3 separate regions of the Homo sapiens genome follow, and all the other regions are linked to region 3. The links come from fine-mapping of genetic effects on gene expression. A gene starts in region 3. Each other region holds a variant in brackets. All regions are shown on one strand. Distances are between the middles of the regions.

Region 1 (4,000 bases), 38 kb before region 3:
TTTTGCTTTATAGTGGGTATAGTGTAATTCACTTTTAAAAGTGCTTTTTTCTCAGTTATTTTAAAATAAGGGTTATTTAGGAAAGTCACTTATGAAAGTAGAGTTGTTAAGGTCACTCAGGATACTTATTTTTAAAAAATGAAAGAATGGAAATCACATCCTTTCTCCTTTTCTTTTTTGAAAGAATAATTGGCTTATTTTGTAACATGTGCATTCCACAGAATTATGGCAGTACACAAAGAATGAAGATGTGAAAACCTAAAGCCCAGAAATTACCTATTTAAACAGTTAAGTGAACAATATTCCAGACATCTCTTCATTGAGGAGTAGTGAGAGGCAGGGACAGACTGGGAAGGAAGAGAGAGACATTGATAGGAGGAAGTTAAACTGAAGGCATTGCTGAATTTCTATAAATGTTTCTTCCCTCCAAGATATTTTATTTTGTGAGATCTGTCTAATATTAAGGAGGAAAACTATAAAAATCACTGTAAGTCGGAATGGGTAGTTTTAAACTTCATATTAACTTCACATACAATTATTTGTTGGCTCGCTACAGTGAAAAGTGAGGACATTATTAGTACTTCCTCCCACCTAGCCTCCCTTACCTTATGCCAGTCCTGTTTTTCCCTTTTTAGGTGACTTGCATGCATGACCAGTCATCTTTCTTAAGCTCGAAAGCCAGTAACACTCAGAATACATCTCAGTGTTGATCATTCTCCATTAGTTTTTCCTGACATATAGTATGCTGTTTTGATTTGCAGGTGTAATTCTCTTTCTCAAGGAACTTTTTTCTATTATATATTTTAAATATTTTATATTTGCTGGGCTCTCTATAAGACATTTAAGACATAACTATCCTTTCATTGGATTACCTTTGTCGTCCACATCTATTTTTTCTGCATTCACTGTGGTTTTCTTAGGCTCTTTCACTGTATCAAAATTTTACATTTCAGGTGTGTCTATAATGTTTCTCACCAAGTATGTGACCTTAGGCAAATTACTTAATGTCTCTGCTTCCATCTGTGCAGAATGAGAATAATAATAGTACCTTTATTTCACAGACATATGAGGATTAAATCAGATACTACATATAAATCATTTATAACAGTGGGAAGTGTTAGCTATTTCTAATTTAATTCTGAAAGGCTGTTATTATGGTTCTTTTACTTAGCATTTGTTCTTTTTTCATTTCATTGTTCTATTATCTGATTTTTTGTCATTATTTCATTGCTTTCATGTTTCTATTTTACTTTTTATTCGTGGATTATTATTTCCTGCAGATTAGGTTCTTTATCTGTTTTTTGCATGTTCTGTTCCAATATCCCTTTTTTTTTTTTTCCTCTAGTAGATGGAGTAGCTTTTCTGTTTTTTGCCTTCACTTGAGTAAAGGGAAATGTCTTTTCCAGATATTCTGTTTGCTACATAAAGGATCATATGCCATCTCATGCAGGGATTACATTCAGAAGCCAGTTTGTGAGACAGAAATTCAGTATAATCAAAATTACTTCTAACATTCTTGTCTTGCCCATAAGAACAGAATTCAGCCAGGCACAATGGTGTGGCTCATGACTATAACCCCAGCACTTTGGGAGCAGGAGGATCACTTGAACCCGGGAGTTAAGAGTAGCCTGCACAACATCTTGAGACCCTGTCTCTACAAAAAAATAAATAAATGAAAATTAAACAAACAAACAAAAAAACACAACAAATTAGCGGGTCATGGTAGTGCATGTGCCCATAGTCCCAGCTACTCAGGAGGCTGAGGTGGGAAGATTGCTTGAGCCTGGGAGGTTAAGGTTGCAGTGAGCCATGATTGAGCCCCTGCACTTCAGCCTTGGTGACAGAGCAAGGCCACATCTCAAAAATAATAATAATAAATAAAATAAAAATTAAAGAACAGAATTCCCTCATGCCTCACTGTCAGTATGGCATTATGCTGAAACAGTCAGTGGCACATGGCATATCCCATCTAGTTTCTGTTGTCTGAAGACATTGAATCTGGGAGAGGAAAGGCTCAGCTGGAGCTGTGTGCAGCTTGGGCTAGCTGTCTCCTGGGATTTTAATTAAATGTCCTATACCAGGGAGTGTGCCCTATATAAAAGAGAATAACCTAGCATTATTAGGTTGTTTACCTAATTTGTTAGGGATCCTTGGAGCCTATGTGTTTGGTCAGTGTCAGCCCTGCTTCTTTACCTTCTACACCATTAGTCCCTTCCCAGCAGCCCACTGGCAGTTGTTTTCCCTGTTCAGGTTACCTTTTCCCCAAATTTGGGGCATTAGTAAGAATCCTCAGGTTTGACCAGTTG[T/C]GTAGCACTTTTAATGGATTGAGACAGTATTAGGAATCAGCTGCATCAGAATCATTTGGTTCTTTTTACAGCTGCACTTTTTAAGCGTATGGCATGGCTTAAACTCTTCTCCTTGATTAATTAACACTGTCGAGTTTTGTTTGATTAATTTTAGATGGGAGAAGTTGAGAGAATGATGATACATCATACAGCTGCTGACTTTTTTCTATTTTTTTTTTGCTTATTTCATTAGGAATTAGATGGACTGTGTTCTAGATGATTTCACCAAATCACTTCTCTTTTTGCTAGAATCATTTTAGTTGCTATTGGTAGGACTTACTCTATAACAGACTTGACTTGCTTTTGCTGCATGGCTACTGCTTATTTATGTAAATGTTCTGTACTGCCATCTCATTTCCCTGTTTGCTGCAGCTATTCTTTTTCTATATTCCCTCCCTATTTTTCTTTTTCATCCCTTCTTTCTCTACCTCTGCTGCAGACCCACCAGTCTTGATTTTCATAATCACTGCGTCAGTTCCTGAAGTTCCCTTGAATTTAGGATATTTTCATTGTGTACATCAAACATAAAAATTATTTGAACTGTATCCAACCTGATTTGAATTTGAAAGACTGTGAGTAGTAGTTATCTCAGACCTCTGAAAAATGCCAGTAATATGAGGCATTTCTGTTTCTTAATACTATTTTATATGTTTTTACTGAAATATATGAAATAAAACTGCTTTCTCCTCAGTGGTTTTTCCTTACTATGCTACAACTTTATTCCCCAGGCAACCTCTAAGAATGTTTAGAAAAATGTTGCCAGTAGTTATTTTGACAGCTGTTTTATTAAAATGATGTCTTCCCATTTATGTTTTGCTATCCCTATTAGAAAATATGAAAAGATAAGATGTAATTTTGTTTCACTATATGATAGAAAAATCAGTCTGTAAGATCGAATCCCTGCAAGTCACTCTTGTAGGCTTGCTCTAGAGATTCAGAAGCCCTGAGGCAGCCTCGTTAAGAGCTGGTGCTCTTAATAAGGTAGACCTGGTCAAATCCCAGCTATTCCATCTGAGTTCCCCTATCTTCTGCAGGTTTACCTAACCTAAGTCTCTGTTACCTCATTGGTTAAAACTGAGATAATAGTATAATAGTAATGAAGTTACATGAAGATTAAGTGAGATTTCATATATATATATACACACACACACATATAGAGAGAGAGAGAGAGTTTAAGATAGTATCTGGAAGCATTCAAATGTAAATTAGTAACAGTAAAAATAAACACAGTAAGTCCTTAACATTGTCAGTAGGTTTTTGGAAACTGCAACTTTAAGCAAAATTACATAACCAATATTTTTTCTCATTATTACAACAAAACAACATGATTCAAGGAACTGCTGTATGTCATCTCACTTACAGTTGCAGTTTCCAAGAAATATCAAAAACATTAAGTCAGGACTTACTCTATCTGTATTTAAGGAACTTCTGGTCTTTTAGAGAGGATAGGGTACAAATATAAATAATTATAACAGAAGGTAGAAATTGATAAGCATCCTGGGAATTCTGTAGCTGAAGTTTTGGGAGAGTTCTTCACAGCAGGCATTATTTTTAGAAGAAGGGGATCAGGAAGCCTTTGCTAAAGAGGGGAAGAACATGTTCCTTGAAACATAGTAGGCACTAAATAAGTATTGAATGAATGTACCTTTAAAGAT
Region 2 (4,352 bases), 200 kb before region 3:
GGTTTAAGGAAAGAAGCTATCATCATAACATAAAAGTATAAGGTGAAGAAGGAAGTGCTGATATAGAAGCTGTAGAATGTTATCCAAAAGATCTGACTAAGATAATTGATAAAGGTGGCTACACTAAGCATACACTAAACACAGAATTTTTTTTTTTTTTTGAGACAGAGTCTTGCTCTGTCGCCCAGGCTGTAGTGCAGTGGCACGATCTTGGCTCACTGCAACCTCCACCTCCCTGGTTCAAGCAATTCCCCTGCCTCAGCCTCCCAAGTAGCTGGGATTACAGGTGTACACCACCAAACCTGGCTAACTTTTTTGTATTTTTAGTAGAGATGGGGTTCACCATGTTGGCCAGACTGGTCACGAACTCCTGACCTCAGGCAATCCGCCCACCTCAGCCTCCCAAAGTGCTGGGATTATAGGCGTAAGCCACCGTACCCAGCCAACAACAGATTTTTTTAATGTAGACAAAATGGCCTAGTATTGGGAGAAAATTCCATCTAGGACTTTCATAGCTAGAGAGAAGTCAATGACTGGCTTCAAATCTTTAAAGAACAGTCTGAATCTCTTGTTTAGGGCTAATGCATCTGGTGGCTCTAAATTGAAGTCTACATCTTTTATGATTTCAAAAATTCTAGAGCCCTTAAGAATTGCCCTAAGTCTACTCTGCCTATGCTCAATAAATGGAAAACAAAGCCGGATGACAGCACATCTGTTTACAGCATGGTTTACTGGATATTTTAAGCCCACTGTTGAGACCTACTGCTCTGAAAAAAAAAAATGATTCCTTTCAAAATTCCTGCTCATTGGCAATGCATCTGGGCTCTCAAGAGCTCTAACGGAGATGTACATGGAGATTAATTTTGTTTTCATGTCTGCTAACACAACAATTCTGTAGCCCATGGATGAAGGAGTAATTTCTAATTTCAAGTCTTATTATTTAAGAAATACATTTCATGATGCTATAGCTACCAAAGATAATAATTCCTCTGATGAATCTGGACAAAGTAAACTGAAACTTTCTGGAAAGAATTCACCATTCTAAATGCCATTAAAAACATTTGTGATTCATGGTAGAAGGTCAAAATATCCACATTAACAGGGATTTGAAAGAAGTTGATTCCAACCTCTGTGGATGACTTTGATTCAAGACTAGTGCAGGAAGTAACTGCAGACATAATGACAATAACGAGAGAACTAGAATTAGAAATGGAGCCTGGCCAGATGCAGTGGCTCACACCTGTAATCCCAGCACTTTGGGAGGCCTAGGCAAGAGGACTGCTTGAGGGCAAGAGTTCAAGACCATCTTGAGCAACATAGTGAGACCCTATCTCTACAAAAATCAAAAAATGAGGCATGCATAATGGCACATGCCTATGGTGCCAGCTGCTCAGGAGGCTGAGGCAGAAGGATTGTTTGAGCCCAGGAGGCTGAGGCTGCAGTGAGCTGTGTTCATGTAACTGCACTCCAGTCTGGGTGACAGAGTAAGATCTTGTCTCAGAAAAAAAAAAAAAAAAAATGTGACTGAATTGCTACAATCTCATGATTAAACTATAATAGATGTGGAGTTGCTTCTTATGGGTGAGCAAAGAAAGTAGTTTCTTGAGATCAGTCTACTCCTGGTAGCGATGCTGTGAACACTGTTGAAATGACAACAAAGAATTTAGAAGATTACATCAACTTAGTTGATAAAGCAGTGACAGGGTGTCAGAGGATTGCCTCCAATTTTGATAGAAGTTCTACTGTGCATAAGATGCTATCAGATAGCATCTCGTGCTATAGAGAAATCTTTTATGAAAGAAACGGTCAATAAATATGGCAAACTTAATTGTTGTCTTATTTTAAGAAATTGCCACAGCCATCCTAAACTTCAGCAACCACCACCCTGATCAGTCAGGAGCCATCAACATCAAGGCAAAACCCCTCCACTGGCAAAAAGGTGATGACTCACTGAAGGCTCAGGTGATCATTGGCATTTTTAGCAATAAAATATTTTTAAATTAAGGCAGGCACACTG[GTT/T]TTTTTTTTTTTTTGACATAGTGCTATTGCATACAAGAGACTACAGTATATTGGAAATATAATTTTATATGTGCTAGAAAAAAAATTTTGTGTGACTTGCTTTATTGTGAGATTGGCTTTATTGCTGTAGTCTGGAACTGAACTCACATCTCTGATGTATGCCTGTGTATACATATCAAAACATATTATTTACCATATATAAAATAAATATGCTTATAAAAATAACTCAGAGAGATAGAAATTATTTTTAAAAAGAAAAGGATGAAATAGAAATTTGGGGTTGAAAATTACAATAACTAAAATGAAAAATTCACTCAAGAGGCTCAACAGCAAATTTGAGATGACAGAAGGGAGAATCAATGACTTGACAATAGAACTGTAGTTATAATTCAGTCTGAATAGCAGAGAAAAAAGATTGAAGAAAAGTCAACAGAACTTCAAAGGCCTTTGGAACAACATCAACCATACTAAGCATGTGTAATTAGAGTCCAAGGTGGAGAGCAAAAAGAGAAAAAAATAGAAAAAAAAATTAATAATGACCAAAAATTCCAAAGTTTAATGAAAAATATTAATCTACATATTCAAGAAGCTCAATGAACTTTAAGCAGGATAAAGTTTCTACACCCAGATGTGTCATAGTTAAACTGATGAAAGATAAAGACAAAGAAAAAATCTTGAAAGTAGTAAAATTGCTCATCATATGCAGTTAGAAAGAAGAAAAGAAAAAAAAGGCAAAACAAACCACATATATGATCTGTGTATCTGTGTGTCACTTCAAGTGATACACAGAAAGTGTTTAACAAAATCTGACACCAATTGATAATTTCAAAACTCTTAAACTGGGAAAAGAACCTACCTAAACTGATCAAGGACAGCTATGAAAAAAAACTACAGCTAATATCACACTTAACGAGAACACCAAATGTGATGGCAGTGGCCATCACGCTGGCTGCAGTAAGGAGGCATGGCTCAGGCTGCACGCACCATGGAGCCGGTGGCAGCCCCACCCCTTCTGAGTTGGAGCTGCAGCTCTTCCCGTGCCACTGCAGCTGCCCAAACCCAGCTGCAGACCCAGGCCTCCTGCTCTATGGAGCAAGCAGAAGCCCCTTCCTCCTGGATGGGACTACAGCTGCCCAAACTGCAGCCCTCGATGGGAGCCTCCTTGTGCTCTTGGGGAAGGCCTGGAGCAGGCTGGATCTGCCTTCCCAGGTGCGGCTGCGGCCACCCTCCTAGGCGCAGGACCTGGGCGTCTCTGCACCCTGCACCCTAGAGGGCTGCAGGAAGGACCCTCCCCCGTCGCAGGTTCGGGGGTGTCTGCTCCCACTGCCTGGCCTCTCTCTGCTTCTGATGCTGGTTCTGATCTTGAAGTGGGGTTGGGGCAGTGACCCGGGGCCTTGAATTTGAATGGCAGTGGGAGGCAGAAAGAGTCCTGGGTGGAAGGGGGTAGGTCCCCAGTAAGTCTCCACCTTCAGGACAGGGAGGGCCTGAAGGCTGAGGGCCAGGTGGCCAGTCCGTCACCAGAGTGGGAACTCATGGTGCCTCTCTGGGCCCGCCCATGGCCACCCATGGGCCAATCCCCATGCACTTCCTCCCCTCTGAGGTCTATAAGAGCCCTGGGCTCAGCCAGAGCAGTGCAGAGTATGGCCAGAGGACCCAGAGAGTAGAGAGAGTTCATGGGACTGGGTGACCAGCTTCAATGAGACGTACCCTCTCTGCTGATAGCTGGAGACAATGGGACGACTAACTGCAGAGAAGAGCACCCTCTCCGCCGAGAGCTGCAGAGACGACCTGCAGGCAGAGAGGAGCTACCCTCTGCACTGAGAGCTTCACAGACCCGGAGAGACTCCCGCGGAGAGGAGCCACCTCTCCAGGACCTCCTCTCTGATGAGAGAGGAGTACCCTCTGGGACAAGAGCTGCAGAAATTACCTGCCGGCAGAGAGGATCTACCCACTCTACTGAGAGCTTCAGAGACCTCTAGAGACACCTGTGGAGAGGAGCCATCCTCTCCAGGGCCTCCTCTCTGCTGAGAGCTGCAGAGACAACCTCTCCAGGGACTCCTCAGCTGAGAGAGGAGTGCCCTCTCCGCCAAGAGCTGCAGGGACGACTTGCTGGCAGAGAGGAGCTACCCTCTCGGCTGAGAGCTTCAGAGACCTGCAGAGATGCCTGCGGAGAGGAGCCACCCTCTCCAGAACCTCCTCTCTGCTGAGAGCTGAACACTCGACGGGACGACCTGTCCACAGAGAGGAGCTACCTACTCCTCAGAGTTGTTCTGACACTAAGTAAAACTCTTCTTCTTCACTCTTCACTTGTCTGCACACCTCATTCTTCCTGG
Region 3 (4,352 bases):
TCCAAATTTCTGTGCACGGCAGGAAGCAAATGGTATTCAACACCCAGTATTAGTCAAAAGAATATGAATCCTACACTGTGCATCAAAAGGTGTCAAATAGCTTTCACACAATATTTTCTGAAAGGCATGTTAGATTCTCATGGGCTTTATTTAGTTTAACAAGTTTCACTAGGGGAACCTATTTCCTAAAAGTTTCCATAGTGAATCTGATACCTTCAAACCGCTGTCTCAGTAGTCAACAAATTTGCCTAAAAGTTAAAATCAAGCAGTTTATTATATGAAACAATTTTTCCTTAATATCCACAACCTAGAGACTCATTCTAAACTCACTGAGAGGTTAGACAAGCTTGGATTATCGCTGTTACAAAAGAAGTTCCAAACTTTCTCTATGCCTTACATCTCTTTTACTATAGGATGACGCTTCTTAACCTCTTCTCTGAATACTGTTCTTAAATATACACAGGATTTACAAGAAAACTAATTCTATTAAAACAGTCATAAAAAGTAAACGCGATATATATATGTGCTTCTCTGTTGCATTCAATAAATTCAGTGATGTGTTACTATAATTTTGAATAAGTATAAACAGTATTTCTATATTAACTGCAATGTGATATAAACATATTTTATGATCTCTACTGATGACAGTCACAGATACTACTGTGATTTGTTGCTTATATTTTAACTGAATATTAGTTTTTAAAATTTAGTGAAATGATATACCTTTCTTTCCATCCAAGTTCATGGGTTACCTAAATTGTATGAAACCCACTATTTAGGAAGGCTTGATCAAAATTTCATATTTTACCAGGGAAGAAGTCTTACATAGAATTATTCTGGAACATCAGTATATGTAAAGCAAGGTACTAAAGTATTCCCTATGCTTAACCATTCTTCACCCCAGGGTTAAAATCAGTTTCTAGTGTCTGGTCTTTCCACCAATGACTGAGGTGTTGACCAAATGTGCTAGATCTAGAAAACATACTTTTATTTTAGAAATGTATTATATTTTATCACCCCTAAAACCTTTCCCCATAAGGTGATTGTAAAACCGCCTCATTCTTTAAATTTCTACAACACACACGTCTTACCATGGCTAACATCTTAACAAGGCAGAATCTATTTGTGATTAGATGACACTGAAATGTAGTTCCCTACCTTCCTTCCACTCATTACATTATTTAGAAGACTTTTTAAGAAATAATTTTTTTTTAGGGAGGCAGGCACTTCGTAGAACCCCCTTCACTAAAACTTTGCACTACTGGGAAGTCTCAGCTCGCCGTAACCGACTCAGTCCGGCCTAGCCGATCCCGCAGTCCCGTGACCCGCGCGGTCCAGAGCGAGAAAAGGGAACAGCGCAGGGCTCCCCGGAGCAAGGACCCCACCACACCGCACCCCACCCCACCCCCACGCCAGGCAGGACGGCCGAGGCGGGAGGACGCTGCGGTCCAGGCGCTCGCCCTCCACCCCGGTCCCGGCCCGGGCCAGGCCAAAAAGCTCGAGAGCGCGGCATCCCCGCCTGCTCCCCTCCCATCCCCGGCGAGGAAGTCACCTGAAATGACCGGCCAGGGAGCAGCGGCAGCACCACACGGGCATGGAGCGCTGCGCGAGGGGCGCCCGAGCGCGGCCGCCGTGGCCGCCTCCGCCTCCCCCGGCGAGGCTGCCCGCTCGGGGCGCCCGCTGGCTCGGGGTCGCGGGGTCTGCCGGGCGCCCCTGCCTCGCGCCTCGCCGTTGCCGCGGCTGCCCCGGCTCTGTGGCGCCGGAGTCCGCCTCCAGATAGCGGCTTCCGCTCCTCGCCTGCAGGGAGCCAGGCGCCGGAGGCGGGTGATCTCGGGGCGCCGCGATAGGGGCGGAGCGGGGCGGGGACGCTGCGACGGCGGCTGCAGCGGCGCGCGGGCCCCTCCTCGCAGGTGCGGCTGCGGCGGGCGAAGTCTGCGATTGGTGGAGCCACGGCCCGGGCGAGGGGCCGGGCCTGATGGAGCCGAGGCTGCGCGGGCAGGGGACCGAGGTCTGCAGGCAAACTGCGCGGCTCGACCGGCGGCAATCGAGACCTAGACCTCGGTCAGCGCCCCGCCGCCCCTCTGCGTGCGACTTGGTGAGGCCGGTGGGTGCGCGTCGAGAGGGCCGAGGGACGAGCGGAAGAGAAGCTGCTGCGAACTCGGGCCACCCAGATGGCCCGGCGGAGTTCCCTGCGTAAGGCGCGGCCTCGGCCACTTCGCCGAGGACCCCGGGAAGGGTCGAGCTTCCCACGCCTGAGAACCCACCTTTGGGCATTTCCTCGCGCTGCCGGGGTGCAGACGCCGGGAGCTTCCGGGTGCCTCTCCCGCTGACCCCCGCATCACAGTTACCTGGAGGACTCACCAAACCACAGGTGCCCGGGACCCGCCCACCACGCTTCTTTTATGGAAGTCCCGCTTCCGGGAAGAGGTCATCCTCCCCTCTTCATGTCTCTCAAACACCCACAAGTGTAGGAATTACCAGCACGCCGGGTGAAAATCCAGGTGCTCATCAGGCCCGCCCCAGACCACACCGGCCAGTGTGGGGAAGGGCAGGAACCCCTGCTGCTTTTTAAGCCCCTGCGGGCGTTTGTGATGCAATAGGGAGTTAGAAAAGTACTCAATAGTGAGTGTCGTTATTCGGTTTGTCAAAAATTAAAGGTGGGGAGGACAAAAATCAGGAGAGATTGATTGCATCTACTTTTCTACGGAAATGTCTAACTCCGCTTCCAAAAAAAGCCGTAATTATTTTTGTGCTTCAAATATACGTTTATGTTTATATCTTTCAACATAATTTTGTAAAACAAATGTTAAGTTTTACTGAATGTTGTCACTGAACAAACTTGTGATGAGCAGGTATTTTAGAGTCTTGGGGTCTTAAAAGAAAATCATAGGACTCAGACTGCCCCAGAGTTATGCAATCTAAGAGTATATTAACCACTTTTAAGTATTATATGTTTTTCTCTTTTTTGAGCTTTTGTCGATTTGACACGTTCATTTCATTTGAATGTTGGTTCTGAAAATGAAGCATGTAGTTACTTTTCCGTTAACATACATAACAGCATTTTAAAGTACCTAAATTCCTTTTGGAAGGCCGAGGCGGACGGATCACCTGAGGTCAGAAGTTCCAGACCAGCCTGACCAACATGGTGAAACCCGTTTCTACTAAAAATACAAAACCTAGCCCCGGGCGTGGTGGCACGCGCCTGTAATCCCAGCTACTCAAGAGCCTGATGCAGGAGAATCGCTTGAAACCGGGAGGCGGAGGTTGCAGTGAGCTGAGATCGCGCCACTGCACTCAGCCTGGGCCAAAGAGTGAGACTCCGTATCAAAAAATAATAATAAAGTACCTGGCCGGGCGCGGTGGCTCACGCTTGTTATCCCAGCACTTTGGGAGGCCGAGACGGGCAGATCACGAGGTCAGGAGATCGAGACCATGGTGAATGGCGTGAACCCGGGAGGCGGAGCTTGCAGTGAGCTAAGATCGCGCCACTGCACTCCAGCCTGGGCGACAGAGCGAGACTCCGTCTCAAAAATAAATAAATAAAGTACCTACATTCCTAAAAGCAGTGCTTAATTCTGCAGCACATATACTAAAATTAGAATAATATAAAGATTAGCATGGCCCCTTCCCAAGGATAACACGCAAATTCGTGAAGCGTTCCGTATTTTTAAATATATACACCTACTATGTAACCAAAAAAATTAAAAATAAACATATAAATTCCTGAAAGCTATGCCAGTCCAATCCAGATAATTCTTTTAATTTTTAATTTTTATTTTTTGTGAGTACATGGTATATATATTTATGGGGTACATGAGATTTTGATACAGGCATACAATAAGTAATAATCACATCAGGGTACATGGAGTATCCATCACCTCAAATATTTATCCTTTCTTTGTGCTACAAACAATCTAATTATACTTAGTTATTTTAAAATGTTCAATGAATTATCGTTGACTAGTCACTCTCGTGCTGTCAAATACTAGATCTAATTCTGTCTATACTTTTGTACCTATTAACCATCCCCACTCTGCCCCTTAATTCCCCACTACCCTGCCCAGCCTTGTAACCATCATTCTATTCTCTGTTAGTTCCGTTGTTTTAATTTTTAGCTCCCACAAATAAGTGAGAACATGCAGAGTTTGTCATTCTGTACCTGGCCTATTTCACTTAAAGTAGTGACATCAGTTGCATCCATTTTGTTGAAAATAACAGGATCTCATTCATTTTTATGGCTGAATGCTACTACGTTGTGTACATAAACCACATTTTCTTTATTTGTCTATTGATGGACACTTAGGTTGTTTCCAAATCTTGGCTGTTGTGAACAGTGCTGCAATAAACATGGG

Direction of the effects. Positions count from the first base shown, and alleles are read on the strand shown. Sizes are in standard deviations (SD) of each study's normalised expression. Not every link is listed here.
For the expression in subcutaneous fat of the gene that starts at base 1,820 in region 3, allele GTT in region 2 goes with a lower level than allele T (large effect, 1.1 SD a copy in FUSION).

What was found. PIP is the estimated chance that this variant, and not a neighbour inherited with it, causes the effect.
Region 1: its variant is the best candidate, but not a certain one, in a credible set for the expression of OSGIN2 in blood mononuclear cells (TOPMed, PIP 0.86).
Region 2: its variant is the best candidate, but not a certain one, in a credible set for the expression of OSGIN2 in subcutaneous fat (FUSION, PIP 0.71).

Annotation. Positions count from the first base shown.
Region 1 is chr8:89,937,964-89,941,963 of GRCh38, reverse strand. All of the region lies in intron 14 of NBN (nibrin), which reads left to right. Among named protein-coding and RNA genes, the nearest start is that of OSGIN2, 37 kb to the right of the region's middle. The variant T/C (reference allele first, on the strand shown) is at 2,307.
Region 2 is chr8:90,097,499-90,101,850 of GRCh38, reverse strand. No RefSeq gene overlaps it. Among named protein-coding and RNA genes, the nearest start is that of CALB1, 17 kb to the right of the region's middle. RefSeq lists enhancers at 2,765-3,436, 3,437-4,109. The variant GTT/T (reference allele first, on the strand shown) is at 2,018.
Region 3 is chr8:89,900,038-89,904,389 of GRCh38, reverse strand. It overlaps OSGIN2 (oxidative stress induced growth inhibitor family member 2), which reads right to left and starts at 1,820. Exons shown (of 6, transcript NM_001126111.3): 1 at 1,553-1,820. The coding sequence starts at 1,596. LOC124901974 (a long non-coding RNA gene) reads left to right here and starts at 1,984. Exons shown (of 2, transcript XR_007061001.1): 1 at 1,984-2,371. It also overlaps the pseudogene RNU6-925P. RefSeq lists silencers at 196-255, 1,249-1,698, 1,729-2,068, 1,818-2,116 and enhancers at 2,410-3,175, 3,176-3,941.